Homo sapiens: one gene and its partner. The protein of the gene in region 1 interacts with the protein of each later gene in a pairwise test. Each region holds a gene or a part of one and is shown in the gene's direction. Other genes may lie near its edges.

The links.
Region 2: the proteins of PRICKLE3 (region 1) and SULT2B1 interact in binary tests that used the Homo sapiens proteins (3 or more experiments, as listed by UniProt).

What each region holds. Positions count from the first base shown.
Region 1 is NC_000023.11:49,183,357-49,190,978, reverse strand, and holds the start of PRICKLE3 (prickle planar cell polarity protein 3), read left to right. Parts: upstream 1-4,605; 5' UTR 4,606-4,681; coding exon 4,682-4,723; intron 4,724-6,085; exon of another isoform or gene 6,086-6,153; intron 6,154-6,268; coding exon 6,269-6,354; intron 6,355-7,061; coding exon 7,062-7,245; intron 7,246-7,622. UniProt on the Homo sapiens protein: Involved in the planar cell polarity (PCP) pathway that is essential for the polarization of epithelial cells during morphogenetic processes, including gastrulation and neurulation.
Region 2 is NC_000019.10:48,548,255-48,555,187, forward strand, and holds the start of SULT2B1 (sulfotransferase 2B1), read left to right. Parts: upstream 1-3,917; 5' UTR 3,918-3,998; coding exon 3,999-4,069; intron 4,070-6,933. UniProt on the Homo sapiens protein: Sulfotransferase that utilizes 3'-phospho-5'-adenylyl sulfate (PAPS) as sulfonate donor to catalyze the sulfate conjugation. Responsible for the sulfation of cholesterol.

The sequences.
Region 1 (7,622 bases):
GACGAGCTCACCAATCCGGGAGGAGGGGATAGATCTGCCGCCTCTCCCCAACGCTGGAGGGGAGGGAAGTAGTGTGGAATTTCAAAGGAGGAAGAGGGATAGGGTGGGGTCCTGGAAAGGTTTGCCGGCCTTCTTGCTGGGCCTTAAAAGAGAAGTGAGGGTCGGGGCTTGGTGGCTCATGCCTGTAATCTCAGCACTTTGGGAGACCGAGGCGGGCGGGCCGCTTGAGCCCAAGAGTTCGAGACCAGCCTGGGCAACATGATGAAATCCCACCTCTACAAAAAATACAAAAATTAGCCGGGCGTGGTGGCATGCATCTGTGGACCCATCTACTCAGGAGGCTGAAGTGGGAGGATCACTTAAGCCCAGGAGGTTGAGGCTGCCGTGAGCTATGATCCTGCCACTGCACTCCAGCCTGGGCAACAGAGCGAGACCTTGTCTCAAAAAAAAAAAAAAAATGGAAAGAAAGAAAGGAAGAAAAAAAGAAAGAAAGAAAAGAGGCCAGGTGAGGTGGCTCATGCCTGTAATCCCAGCACTTTGGGAGACCAAGGTGGGCAGATCACCTGAGGTCAGGAGTTCGAGACTAGCCTGGCCAACACGGTGAAACCCCGTCTCTACTAAACATATAAAAATTAGCCGGGCATGGTGGCGCACGTCTGTAGTTCCAGCTACTCTGGAGGCTGAGGCAGGAGAATCGCTTGAATCTGGGAGGCGGAGGTTCCAGTGAGTCGAGATTGCGCCACTGCACTCCAGCCTGGGCAACAGAGCGAGACTCTGTCTCAAAACAAAAAAAAAAAGAAAAAGAGAAGTGAGATTTCCCTCAGATAGGAGGGAGGATATAGGGGAGGAAAGGCAGGAGGAAAAGGCTAAGGGGTGGCTAAAAAGTGGGGGAAGGCAAGAAGGTGGCAATACTTGGATGGAGGTAGCTTCTGACACTGGGTTAGCCAGGATGGAAAGGGCATCCCACATCTAATTCATCAAAAAATCCTGTGGGTCCTACCTTCAAAAAATATATCCTTCATCTTCCACTGTCATCTCTCCCAGACCTCTTCTCAGGTCTCCATTTCCATTCTGTTCTACTCACAGCATCTGGAGGGATTCTGTTAAATCCTAAATTAGGCCACAGTCCTCCTGTGTCAGAACTCTGCCCTGTCGCAGGCTGGGCGTGGTAGCTCACGCCTGTAATCCTAGCACTTTAGGAATGCTAGACTTGAACTCCTGGGCTCAGGTGATCCTCCCACCTCAGCCTCCCAAGTAGCTGAGACTATAAGTGTGAGCGACCATGCCCAGCTCACTTTATTTTTTCCATTTCACTTATTATTGTCACCCTATGTTATACGAGATAATCCACTCATGCATCATGTTCGCTGTGTGAAGTCTATCTCTGCTTCAGTATAAGCTCCACAAAGACAGGGATCTTTGTTTTGCTCAATATAGTTTATCACAAATGGCTAGAACAGTACCTGTTAAGGGACTATTTTTTTGGTTGGAGGAAGGAGACTGTAATCTCTTTGGTACCTAACCCAGTGGGGGCAAGGTCAGGTATATCTTCTCAGCAGAGGCAGCTGGGATGAAGCTGGCTCCAGGAAAGAAGAAAAGACATAAAGCCAGGACAAAGGCATAACAGCCCAACCCCTATCTGAGGGCGCCACCCATGTCAGACCCCCTCTCCTTTCTGTGTCTTTTGTCTCTACAGGTCAGTGAAGCCCAGGAGGACCTGGGGGGGGCAAGAGCTCAGGAGAAGGCCTGCCCCCCTTCCCACCCCTATACCCTAGGTCTCCACCCCTCAAGCCAGGAGACCCTGTCTTTGCTGTTTATATATATATATATTATATATAAATATCTATTTATCTGTCTGAGCCCTGCCCTCACTCCACTCCCCTCATCCACTAGGTGCCCAGTCTTGAGTGGGCCCCCTCTCTTACCCCGTCCCTTTCCCTGCATCCCTTGGCCCCTCTCTGTTTACCCTCCCTGTCCCCTGAGGTTAAGGGGATCTAAAAGGAGGACAGGGAGGGAACAGACCTCGGCTGTGTGGGGAGGGTGGGCGTGACTTCAGACTCTCTCCTCTCTCTCCCTCCACTCCTCCCAACTCTGGCCTTGGTTCCTCCAGCAATGCCTGCCTGAACAAAGGCCGTTAGGGAAATCCAACTCCAGGGTTAAAGAAAGGCAGAGATTGGGGGGGCTTGGGGTAGAGAGGACAGTTTAGGACCCAAGGTGGTCTTGGAGAGGAGGTGTGGAGTGGAGGGGTCAGCAGGGGGGTTGGGTTCCAGACAGAGTGGATCTGGAGTCTGAAGGAGAGGAGTGCGCTAGAGCATTCTGGGGTGGGGCTTGGAAGGGCGCTGAGGGCAGGGTTCTAGAAGGGGCGAGGCTTTAAGCGAGGCAGAATGGTGGGCTCCAGAGTAGGTGGGTCTTGGATTGGTACCAGAGCCTATGGAAAGGGTGTGGCTTGGAACATTTGGGAGACTGAGCTTGATTCTAAAGGGGACAGATCTTGAGCAAGGCAAGAAGTGGGATTCAGGAATGGGCCAAGCCAGGGTTCCAGACAGGGTGGGGCTTAGAATGGGGCTTCCATGGTGGTTTCAGAAAGGGCAGCCCCTCCCCATGGTGCAGTGAAGAAAATGTTTTACAATGGCTGGGTTTGGGCAGTGGAGAGGGGACTTGGATAGGAGCTTCCAGATGGGTTTTGTTAGGGGTGGGGGAGAATGGCTCTGGCTACGACTTGGGACGGAAGTGGCCTGAGAAGAGTCGAGTGATATGGCTTGTAGGGTGAGGCGTGGGATCCAGAGAGAAGCACCCCACCACACACACCCTTCCCCACTCCCGTGATGAAACAGCTAGGTTAATAGGAGGACAGAACCAACGGGTCTGTGGGACTGGCCCACCCCTCTTCCCCCTTCCCCTGCGCCCTCCCTCCCTCCACACCTCCACCCGTCCTGGGGTGGTTGGAGGCCTGGTCTGGAGCCCCTATCCTGCACCCTCTGCTATGTCTGTGATGTCAGTAGTGCCTGTGATCGTGTGTTGCCATTTTGTCTGGCTGTGGCCCCTCCTTCTCCCCTCCAGACCCCTACCCTTTCCCAAACCCTTCGGTATTGTTCAAAGAACCCCCCTCCCCAAGGAAGAACAAATATGATTCTCCTCTCCCAAATAAACTCCTTAACCACCTAGTCTACCCGGCTCTGATTTCTCAGTGTGTCTTTTTCGGGCGCCGGGGAGGAGGTTGGCCGGGGGAGAAAGGAGGGAGAGGTGGTGAGAACAAGCTCCACCCGGACCCACCGACCGCAGTTCAGCTTGCTGCACCATTTCAGGCCCCTTCAAAAGTGTTAGGCAGAGCAGCATCCTCTGGGAAGCCTCTCCTGCCAATCACTCTGTCACTCTCTGAGTAGCCCTGCTCACCCTCCCACTACTGGCCACCAAATGCCCGGTCTTTCTAGGAGTTGGTTCTAATTCTGGTCCCTTAGCCAAGCCTCTTCCGAGCCCCTGTGGAACCCTCTCCTCAAATCCCCAAGGGGTCCGAATAGGAGGAAACCTCACATTGCCTGACCCCATCCCTAATCTTCAGACCCTACTGTCTCTCCTTTCCCTGCCTCCGCCCAGGCTGGAGAAATGGGAGACAGGTTAGGCAAGGAGGGGAGGTGGGGCGCCGGGGTGACTCCTTAGTTCATTAGTTATTCTCTTTTACCTCTCCACTCCACGGGAAGTGACAGGGACATGTGTAATGGGGGGCGGGGAGAGGTCCCCGGGGCCCGCGATGAAGGGCCTGGCCGCTGCAGTCTCCGTGCATAGAGACCCGGGCCGAGTTCTGACTGAGGCCATGGGACCCCCTCCCCCCAGCCCGGAGGCACAGCCAAGCCTGAGAGCGTGAAGGAGAGGCTCCCCGCCCTGGAACTGAGCTGGGGAAGGGGATAACTGGAGAGAGAAAAATGTGGGTGGGGGAGGGAAGGCTTTAAGATCTACTTCTCAAGACTTGGGGTGGGGGGACGGGGCTGGACAGCTAGGCTTATAAGGATGAGGGGAGAGAGGGGACGAGGGCTTTGGAACCTGGCCTCGCTGAGAGGGGAATGAGAAGGGAGGAGTGCGTATAAGATCTAGCTCTCTGGTGGCTAGGGCCAGGTTCCCAGGTTCCCAGCGAGCACCAGCTGGGGCTGCGGGTGAGGTTGGGGCCCATTGTTGCAGCATTCATCGGGGAGACCCTCGGAACCTCACCAGTGGGGAGGAGCCAAGAGGTGTCTTTAACCCCTCTCCCAAATAAGCATCCGAAATAAATCGACACAAAACGTCAACACAAGCACCCTAGCGCGCCACCCCTCTCAGTCCAGTTGGCCACCTCTGAGTCTCCCCATCCTCCACTACAGAACCTTCAAGCCCCAGGTCCCGTGAGAGGCCACGTGGCACGCCGGGATTCTGGGGGTCGTGCCTTGTGACGCCCCGCACCGGCCCGGAGCGGGAGGGCAGAGGCCTTTCCCGCGGGGCACTCCGGGCTACGTGCAGTTCACCTCTAGGCAGGGGGCGCCCTGGCAGCGGAGAGACCACATGCCCGGGGGCGGGCCCTGCGGGGCGCGCTCCTCCCACGAGGGTGTCAGGTTTACGGAACCGAGTTCCCAGGCCGGACGCGCGGTGGCCTGACGGTCGCAAGGATTACATTCGCCTGACCCGGCCCGGCTTGACCCTGCCCGGGCGCGCCATGTTCGCGCGTGGGTCCCGGAGGCGCCGCTCCGGGCGTGCGGTGAGCGGGAGTCAGGGCAGCGGTGGGGGTCGGGGGTAAACTGAGGCCCAGGCAAGGGGGCAATGGATAGGCATAGCGAATAGGTGCCCCACAGAGGATCTGGGAATCCCATCCCCTGCATTCCCAGACCTGGGGCTGGGGCTGCTGGAGGCGAATGGATGGAGGAAGGTGTAGATCTGGTGGCCCAAACCCCCTAATCACCTCTCCACACACTTTCATCAGCACTCCTGGGACCTGGTGGGGACCCCTCTCTTATGAATTGTGGGAGGGAATCCTGAGGGCCAGAGAACTGGGTCTTGAAGCCTTAGGTTGAGCAGGAACCTCCTGAGCTGCTGCTTTTTTTTTTTTTTTTTTTTTTTGAGACTGAATCTCTGTCACCCAGGCTGGAGTGCAGTGGCGCTATCTCCGCTCACTGCAACCTCCGCCTCCTGGGTTCAAGCGATTCTCCTGCTTCAGCCTCCCATGTACCTGGGATTACAGACGCCCGCCACCGCGCCCGCCTAATTTTTGTATTTTTAGTAGAGACAAGGTTTCACCATGTTGGCCAGGCTGGTCTCGAACTCCTGACCTCAGGTGATCCGCCCACCTCGGCCTCCCAAAGTGCTGGGATTATAGGCGTGAGCCACCGAGCCTGGCCGACCTCCTCAGCTTCTAAAGGACACAGTACCTTGGAGGAATGTGCACGGAGGGATGGAGTCCTACACTCCTGGGATGCCGAAATGCTGAGAGTCAAGAGACTGGGATTTGGGGGGACAAGGCTTCCAGGGTTCCGCCTGAGCAAGGGAGTTTTTGACTTCTTAGATAGGAGGTTCTTTCACTTCCTTTGGAGTGGGTCTCTGACCTGGGAATGTGGGGTCTGGGTTTGATGGTCCGGAGAAGGAATAAATAGCCCTAGGATGGGATGGGTAAAGGCCAAGGTTTCTTGGGATGGGGGTTTCTGAATGGAGCAGGGGCCTCCTGAGATCCTGGGGAGGGTCCCCAGTTCCTTGGGTATCAGGGCATGAGGCCAGGGTTTAGGGGAGGAGCTCCTGAGCTTCTGAAGAGAGGGGCAGGGTTCACGTGGGGATCTCAAGGAAGAATGCGGTCTCGTCTCCTACCCTGTGGAACTGGAGTGCTGCTGGCGGCGTAGATGGAGAGGGAACCGGGATGAGGCCGGGGAGAGGATGCCCAGAGTAGGGGTTCTGTGCTCTAGTGGGGAGAGTACAATGAATTATAGGGGAGGTGCTTGAGCCCTGGAAGGATCTAAGGCTGGTGGGAGGTGTCTGAGGCTAGGGGCGGACGGGGAGGGGGGTCCGAGGCCAGCCTAGGAAGGGGAATTCCCTGAAAAGGGGACATATAAGGAGGTGGCTCCAACTGCCCCGCCTCTGCCTCGGTTGTGTCCCGCTCCCCCGCACTCTGGGCGCTGTCCCAGCCTGCCCAGCGCTGCCCAGGTAAGACAGGCCCCAGCGTGCGGTCGCGGGCAATGAAGTGGAGGGGCGGGCGTTGACTTCTCCTTCCCTGCTTCCGCGCCTCACCCGGCCCTGCATCTGCCCCCGCCCACTGCAGCCTCCAGAGGCAGAGGACCCAGACCGGGGCCAGCCCTGCAACTCCTGTAGGGAGCAGTGCCCTGGCTTCCTGCTCCACGGCTGGAGGTAAGTGGCGCCCCTAAAGGGCCTCGCCTTTGTCAGAGCTCCGCCTTCGGGGGGAAATCCAGGAGCCTTACGCCACGCCCCTACGCTTGAGCTCCGCCTACAGAGGGATCTCAGTTGGGAAAAGAGCCTCAGGCTCAGATTCAGAGCCCCGCCCCCTGACTCATTCCCCAAAGTCCTTTCCCAGGAGAGCTCCACCCACTACGCAGCCCCGCCCCCAGAAGTGTTCTCCCGTAGCCGCGGAGTCGCATCCCTAGGGAGATTCTTCGTCTCTAACTCTGAGCGCCGCCCTCTGGCCTCCAGCACCCCTCTTAGACTCAGACCTACTCTCCCAGGCCCAGCGTCCTATCCTCCTGCTGGAGCCCTGCACCCAATAAACAGAGCCTACAGCCCCCAGACTCAGGCCCTACCCACAGGCTCAGAGCCCACAAGTTCAGAGCCTCACCACAGGTTAGATGCCTGTGTCTAGTGAAAGTTCCCCCACAAAGCATCCCACTCCCCACGACCTGTCCTCTGGCTCACAGCCCAGCCACACCCTGGCTCATAGGCCCACCTCCTGCAGCCCTGCCCCCAGGCCCAGATCCCTGTCCCTGCTCACAGACCTTTGGTGGTGATAATCTGTATGTCCCCGCTCCTCCATTGGACCTGGGCTGCCGAGGGGTTCGGGTGGGCAACTCCTTAGTAATTGACCCCCATCCCGGCCCCCTCAGAAAGATCTGCCAGCATTGCAAATGCCCGCGGGAGGAGCATGCAGTGCACGCGGTGCCTGTGGACCTGGAACGCATCATGTGTCGGCTAATCTCGGACTTCCAGCGCCACTCCATCTCCGACGACGACTCAGGCTGTGCATCGGAGGAGTATGCCTGGGTGCCCCCAGGCCTTAAGCCGGAGCAGGTGACCAGAGGCCAGCCCTCCACTCTTGCTGTCCAGTGGGTGCACACTAATGCTCACACACACACACACACACTCAGGTGGGAACCTATTTCTGGGGCTACGCTAGAGTGTGCAGTCAGACCGAGGGTCCTTCTGGCCCCTCTGTGATGGAAGAGTGGTCAGCCCCCCATACCTTGGGTGACTGAGGGACCAGTTCCTCAGGGCCTGTTCACCCCAATCCTATTATTTTTGATTGATTGTTTTTGAGACAGGGTCTCACTCTGTTGCCCACCACAGCCTCCCTTGTAGCTGGGACTGCAGGTGCATGCCACCCTGCCTGGCTATTTTTAAAATTTTTTTGTAGAGACAGGGTCTCCCTATGTTGCCCAGGCTGATGT
Region 2 (6,933 bases), on another chromosome or scaffold:
GGTTGGATGGATGGATGAATGGATGGAGGATGCATAGAAAGATGGATGCATAGATGGCTGGTTGAATGGATACCTGGCTGAGTGGATGAATAGAGGATGGATGGATGGATAGAAGGATGGTTGAGTAGATGCTTGGATGGATGAATGGATAGACAGTGATGAATGGATGGCAGGATGGATGGATGAATGGATAGATGAAGGAATGGTTGGGTGATGGATGAATAAATGGCTGAATGAATGCAGGATGGATGGATAGATGGATGGTTGGATGGTTGGGTGGCTAGATGAATGGATGGAAAATGGATGGATGGGTGATGGATGGCTGGATAGATGGATGGTTGAGTAGATGGTTGGATGGATGAATGGATGGATAGATGATGAATGGATGAAGAGGTGGATGGTTTGATGGCTGATGAATGGATGGAGGGATGGATGGTTGGATGGGTAGATAGATGGATGTTGAATGGATGATTGGATAAGTGGTTGGGTGGCTGAATGAATGGTTGGGTGGATGGTCGGGTGGATGGATGATGGATGAATAGAGGGACAGGTGGATGCATAGATAGAGGGATGAACAGCTGGAGGGATGAATGGATGTATAATCCTTGCTCCTCTCACTACCCATGACCAAGTGGCTCTGGGTTTTCCACTTGCATTTTCCCACACTCTTCATCTTTTTTTTTTTTTTTTTTTAATTGAGACCGAGTCTTGCTCTGTTGCCCAGGCTGGAGCACAGTGGCACAATCTCGGCTCACTGCAATCTCCACCTCCTGGGTTCAAGCAATTCTCTGCCTCAGCCTCCTGAGGAGCTGGGATTATAGGCACCCACCACCACTCCCGGCTAATTTTTGTATTTTTAGTAGAGACGGGGTTTTACTATGTTGGCCAGGCTGGTCTTGAACTCCCGACCTCGTGATCCACCCGCCTGGGCCTCCCAAAGTGCTGGGATTACAGGCATGAGCCACCAAGCCCAGCCCACTCCTTCATCCTTCTGGTCTCGTCCTTGTCTCCCAGATGTCCAAGACCCTCAGATTCATTTCTGGGGGTTGATGGTCTCCACTAGTATCTCTGCACTCTCACAATTGGCTAAAATGTCACTCTGGTGTCTTCTGGTTCCTCCTTGCCACCTCTGTAGGAGTCTGGACCCCTCGCCTTCCAGAATCAGGCTTTTGCATCTCCTCAGCTCCCTCCTCATTCTCCACAGAGATTCAGTGGACTTCTCCTGGCACCACCATGACCTTCACTCATTCCATCACGTCTTCCTGTGACAATTCATTCATTCCATCAACAGGCACTTATTGAGCATTTACTATATTCCAGGCTCTTCCCTTGGGAAATAACCGCAGATTTGACATAGAACAAGCCCTTCTTTCATGGGGTTGACAGTCTAGTGGGGAGATAGATGGTAAACAAGACAAAGAAGCAAAACATTTAGGAGGTCAGATGGTGACGAGTGCTATGGGAAAAAGTAAAACAGGAAAGAGGAATGGAGAAGTTGGTGGACGAGCCTGGGGGAGGTGACACTGGGCAGAGTCAGACGATAGGAGCCCACGAAGCTCCCAGGTATCAGGAACATGCGGGAATAGCAAGGGCAAAGGCCCTGCAGTAGGAGCCTCCCCTGGGTCTTAGGCCGCCTAGTTTGGCCAGTTTCTTTCCATTGCCCACTCAGGCACAACCTCAGGCCCTACTGCTCCCCAACCTTCCTGTGCCCCGGGGATGCCTCCGCACCTGCCTGCGAGTTTCCCTCTCAGGATCCCTAAGGACCTGGGCATTCCCTTCCCCAGACTCTCCCTAACCCCCCACCCCAGCAGCACACAGAGCCAGGGACAAAGGGTCATTGAATAGAAAACAAAGGTGAAGACAGCCCAGCCGGAGGCCTGGTGGGGTGTCATGGTTCAGTCCCCCACCTCCGACATCAGAGGGGTTCACTCAGCCTCAGAGGGGGATGCCTGGCCCTCTCACCCTTCCACCCACCCTGCAAGAGAGCCTTTTTATCAGCAGGAACATCAAGGCTTAACACTGAAAGTATCAAGGCAGAATGTTGAGGATGTGGACTCGGTAGTGGCTGGGGGCAGGGGCGGGTGCTCCCACAGCTCAGCCTCCTGGAGACGGGTCTTGGGGTGGTGAATTGAGAGATGGGATACCCCAGAACCCTCCTTTTCTGCTTACCATCAGAGTGAAGGCGGGCAGTGCTGTGTGCCCTGGGGGAAGCCACATTACCTCTCTGGGCCCCCTTCCTGCATCTGTTAGGTGAGTCTGACGTCTTCCATCCCCCTCACCTATGCAACAATAATTGGTCAGTATATACAATTTTATTTGTTTTGGCTTTTTTTTTTTTTCTTTTTGAGATGGAGTTTCACTCTTGTTGCCCAGGCTGGAGTGCAACAGTACAATCTTGGCTCGCTGCAACCTCTGCCTCCAGGGTTCAAGTGATTCTCCTGCCTCAGCCTCCCGAATAGCTGGGATTACAGGCACCTGCCACCATGCCCAGCTAATTTTTTGTATTTTTAGTAGAGATGGGGTTTCACTATGTTGGCCAGGCTGGTCTTGAACTCCTGACCTCAGGCGATTCACCCGCCTCGGCCTCCCAAAGTGCTGGAATTACAGGCGTGAGCCATTGCACAGGCTTTCTTTTGGCATTTTTTTTTTTTTTTTGAGATGGAGTCTCTCTCTGTCGCCCAGGCTGCAGTGCAGTGATGTGATCTCAGCTCACTCCAACCTCCACCTCCCAGGTTCAAGCGATTCTCGTGTCTCAGCCTCCCAAGTAGCTGGGATTACAGGCACCTGCCACCACTGGTGGGGAGACTGGCTTCATGACTCCAGGACTCTGAGGGGTCAGGGACCAACAGCTGGGGAGGGCCAGGGTTTGGGGTGGGGGCAGAAGAGAAGAGAACACCGTCTATGCTGAGCTCACTGTGTACCAGATCCTCCACCAGCAGCTGAGAGTGTCTCCCTCAGTCCTCACAACAGCCCGATGGGTGCCATTCACAGATGGGGAAACTAAGGCAAGATGAGCCTATGAGCAAGATGGTTCCCGGCCCCACAGCTGGGAGGCACTGGAGCTGGGATTTGAACCAGGGCTGTGACCTTCAGACTCTCACGCCCAACCATATCTGGCAGTTGTCTCTCATATCTGTGTCTCTCCCTGTCCCTGACCTTTCTATGTATCTCTGTCTCTGCCCTCTGTATATCGCTGCTGGGTCTCTCAGGGTCTCTGACCCCTGTGTGTCTCTGTCTCCTCTGGGTGTCCGTGTGTCTCTGTCTCCGCCCTCCGTGTATCTCTGTTGCGTCTCTCAAGGTCTCTGGCCCCTGTGCATCTCAGTCCCCTCCTGGTCTCTGTCTCCCATGCCCTCTGCCCTCTCCCTTTCTCCCTGGCTCCCGCCCTGTCTGTGCTGCCGTGGTCCTGGCTGTGCCTCTGTCCCTGTGTCTGTTTCCAGGGTGCCCCTTACGCGTCAGCCCGTGAGGGCAAGTTTCTGTCTGCCCCTTCCCCAGCGGTGGCCTAGTGCTTGGAACAGCGCCTGGCAGACAGGAGATGCTCAGTAAATATTTCTCAAATGAATAAAGGAATGAATGAGTGAATGAATGAATGAATGAATGAACTCGCTGAGATGGGCGAGATCAGCGCCATTTCCCAAATGAGCAACGTGGGCTCCAGGTGGGTGCCCACAGGCCCAGAACTGCCAGCCCGGAAGGTTCTGGCGTGGGCTTGGCACTGACCCCCTGGACTCTGCCCCCAGCTGAGCACCAGACGCCAGGACGTGCCCATCACTGCTCCTCCCCGCCCTCAGAGCAGGGTGGCTCCCTCTGGCCTCTCCCCGCTGTTGGAGGCGTGGGTAGCAGCTGGGAGAACCGGCTGGGTGCTGCCCCTCCCCTTGGGCCGGGCACGGAGTAGGCACCTGGCGGGCTCCCCAGGTGGCAGACGCTGTCGCTGCGCACACCTGGCCTCTGTGCCGCCTGCTCCCTGCTCGTCCTCCCCTCCCCACCCTCACCCACCTGCCATGGACGGGCCCGCCGAGCCCCAGATCCCGGGCTTGTGGGACACCTATGAAGATGACATCTCGGAAATCAGGTGAGGCCCAGACCTGGGCAGGAGCCAGGAGATCCCAGGGAGGAGGTGGCTGTTTGGGGGAGCCGGGGACTGTGGCAAGGGTGGCCTCCAGCCACCCGCAGCCGCAGGCCTGGCCCAGACTTAGCTGGAGGGGCTGGGCTGGGCTGGGGCATCCAGTGTGGTGTATAGGTCCCTCCTGAGAAGGGAGTGAGGACCCGACCGTGTTGAGTCACCAGTGGGGATGCCTGGGGTGTCCCTGTCGCTCTCCGGGCCTCAGTTTTTCTGTCTGTCAAAGGGGCCCACAAGCCCTGTGTCTCCCTGATAGAGCAGTGGAAGAGAGCAGGCAGCTTGGTGCATAGTAGTTGCTCAGGAAACACAACAGCCTGTAGTACCCAGGACACCCCATGCAAGCCCTGAAATAACGGGGGTGCTTGGGGGTGAAATGGGAGAGACTGGGATGCTGCTGAGACCCCCAGAGGGAGAAGCTGTGTTCTAGGGCACTTGGGGCGGAGAGGGCAGGCTCTGGACTCTTCAGGTCTCCTAACAGTGGTTAGGGCAGAGCACTGCCCACTTCCATGAGCTCAGCGTGACTCCCTCTTCCTGGGGATGAGTCAGACACTTTGACAGTACCTGCTTTCCAGATGGGGAAACTGAGGCTGGGAGGGAACGCGACATGACCGCAATTACGCAGCTAGAAGCAAATCTGAACCCGGTCTGTCTCACGCCAGAGCCTGTGGTTTCTCCTGCTCCTCACAGCCTTGGTGATGTCCCCTTTACACCCCTCCCCGTGGCTCCATCTTTTAGGGGAGCGCAGAGGCCCAGAGAGGGCAGGCAGCCTGCCCCAGATCACACAGCAAACTGCTGAGACAATCTCCAACCCCTCGTATCTTGCACTCTTGCCAAGTGAGACCTTCCTGGCAGCCTGGGCCCCTCCAGCCACCGTGGGCTGTGAGGAGGGAGACAACCAAGACCTGTTCTCAGCCCAGTTGCCTCATTCCTTTCTTATTTTATTTTATTTTTTTGAAATGGAGTTTCGCTCTTGTTGCCCAGGCTGGAGTGCAATGGCACGATATCAGCTCACTGCAGCCTCCGCGTCCTGGGTTCAAGTGATTCTCCAGCCTCAGCTTCCCAAGTAACTGGGATTACAGGAGCCCGCCACCATGCCCGGCTAATTTTATTTTTGTATTTTTAGTAGAGAAAGGGTTTCACCATGTCGGCCAGGCTGTTCTTGAACTCCTTGCCTCAGGTGATCCACCTGCCTCGGCCTCCCAAAGTGCTGGGATTACAGGCGTGGGCCACCACGCCTGGCCGCCTCATTTCATTCCACTGTTTCAGGCCCTCCCCTCCCCTCCCTCAGCCAGAAGCTGGGGCATGAAGAGGCCTTCCTGGGTGCCTGGGACTCCAGAGACAGGAGCAGTTCAATCCTGATTGCTGTGTGACCTAGACAAGCTTCCTGATGTCTCTGGGCCTCCTGGGCTGAGAGCTGTGACCAGGCTGGCCCAGTTCTGCGTGAGGGAGGCCCCAGCATTCTTTACTCAACATTGTCTAATCCAGGACTTCTGAGTTCTGCAATTCTTCTCTCCAGAGATAAACAGATAAGCCAGCTCGCCTCCAGGGTTCCCGCCTCTGGGAAGGCCTCACCCCCACCCCAGCCAGGCACCTGGGAGCCTTTTTTTTATCTCCGCGACGGCTCTGCCAGCTGGTCATAAAACGCCCTGAGTGACCTCGCTAAGTGGGTGACCTTGGTTTAGTCACTGACCCTCTGCGAAGCTCGGTTTCGTCATCGTGGGGGAGAATAGCCCTCCCCTGCAAGACTCCTCCAGCCCTGATGGCTGCAGAGCCCTGGGGGGGTGCCCTTAGGACCTCAAACTTCCAGGCACTTCTGGAATCCCCCAGGCCTGGAAGCGTGCCTCTCCCCAGCGAGCCTGCTGGAGCATCCCCCTGGGGCCCACTTCCTTCGGGATGTGCCCCTCCCAGACCCCCTCAGATACGCCACGTACCCCCCCAGATTCGCACCTCCTCCCAGGTTGCCCATCTCAGGGATGTCCCCTCCCCATCACTGGCTCAGATCCACAGGGCTTCTCCTGGCCCCGACTTCCCCCTCTGCTCGCCCCCAGCCTGTCAGTCCCCAACCCCCACCCCTGTCCCCTGACTCTCTGCCCTGGTTCTTCCTCTCGGTTGCCACAGCCCCAGCTCAGGCCTCCTCATCTCCCCCCAACCTCACCACTCCAGCCTTGGCTGTCCCAGGCTGCTCCTCCCCTCCTCCCAGCCATCCAGTGAATTCCTCAGCGCCCAGCCCTCACCCACCCCGCCCCCCCAGCCTCCTCACCTGCATTCCAGCTACTCTACTGCTTTTTTTTTTTTTTTTTTTTTTTTTTTGAGACTGAATCTGGCTCTGTCACCCAGGCTGGAGCACAGTGGAACGATCTCGGCTCACTGCAACCTCCGCCTCCCAGGTTCAGGTGTATTACCTCATCTAATCCTCACAGCCATCTGAGATGAACCCACTTTGACTGCTGTCATCCTGTGTCAGAGATGAGGCCCAGAGAGGTTGAGTAACTTGCCTAGGGTCACACAGCTGCCAAGCAGGGCACGGCCAGGATTTGAACCAGGGAAGCCTGACTGTTATCATGCCCTGGACAGGGAATTTAGGGATGATGAGCAAGACCAGGAAGGAGCGAGATCCAGGAGGTAGACTCAGCCCAGATGGGAGGTGAAGCGGGCGCTCTGAGGTTCTAGCCTCCGAGTAGCTGGGATGACAGGCGCGTGCCACTGCGCCCAGTTAATATTATTACTATTATTTTTTTGAGACGGAGTCTCACTCTGTCGCCCACGCTGGAGTGCAGTGGCACGATCTCGGCTCACTACAACCTCGGCCTCCCAGG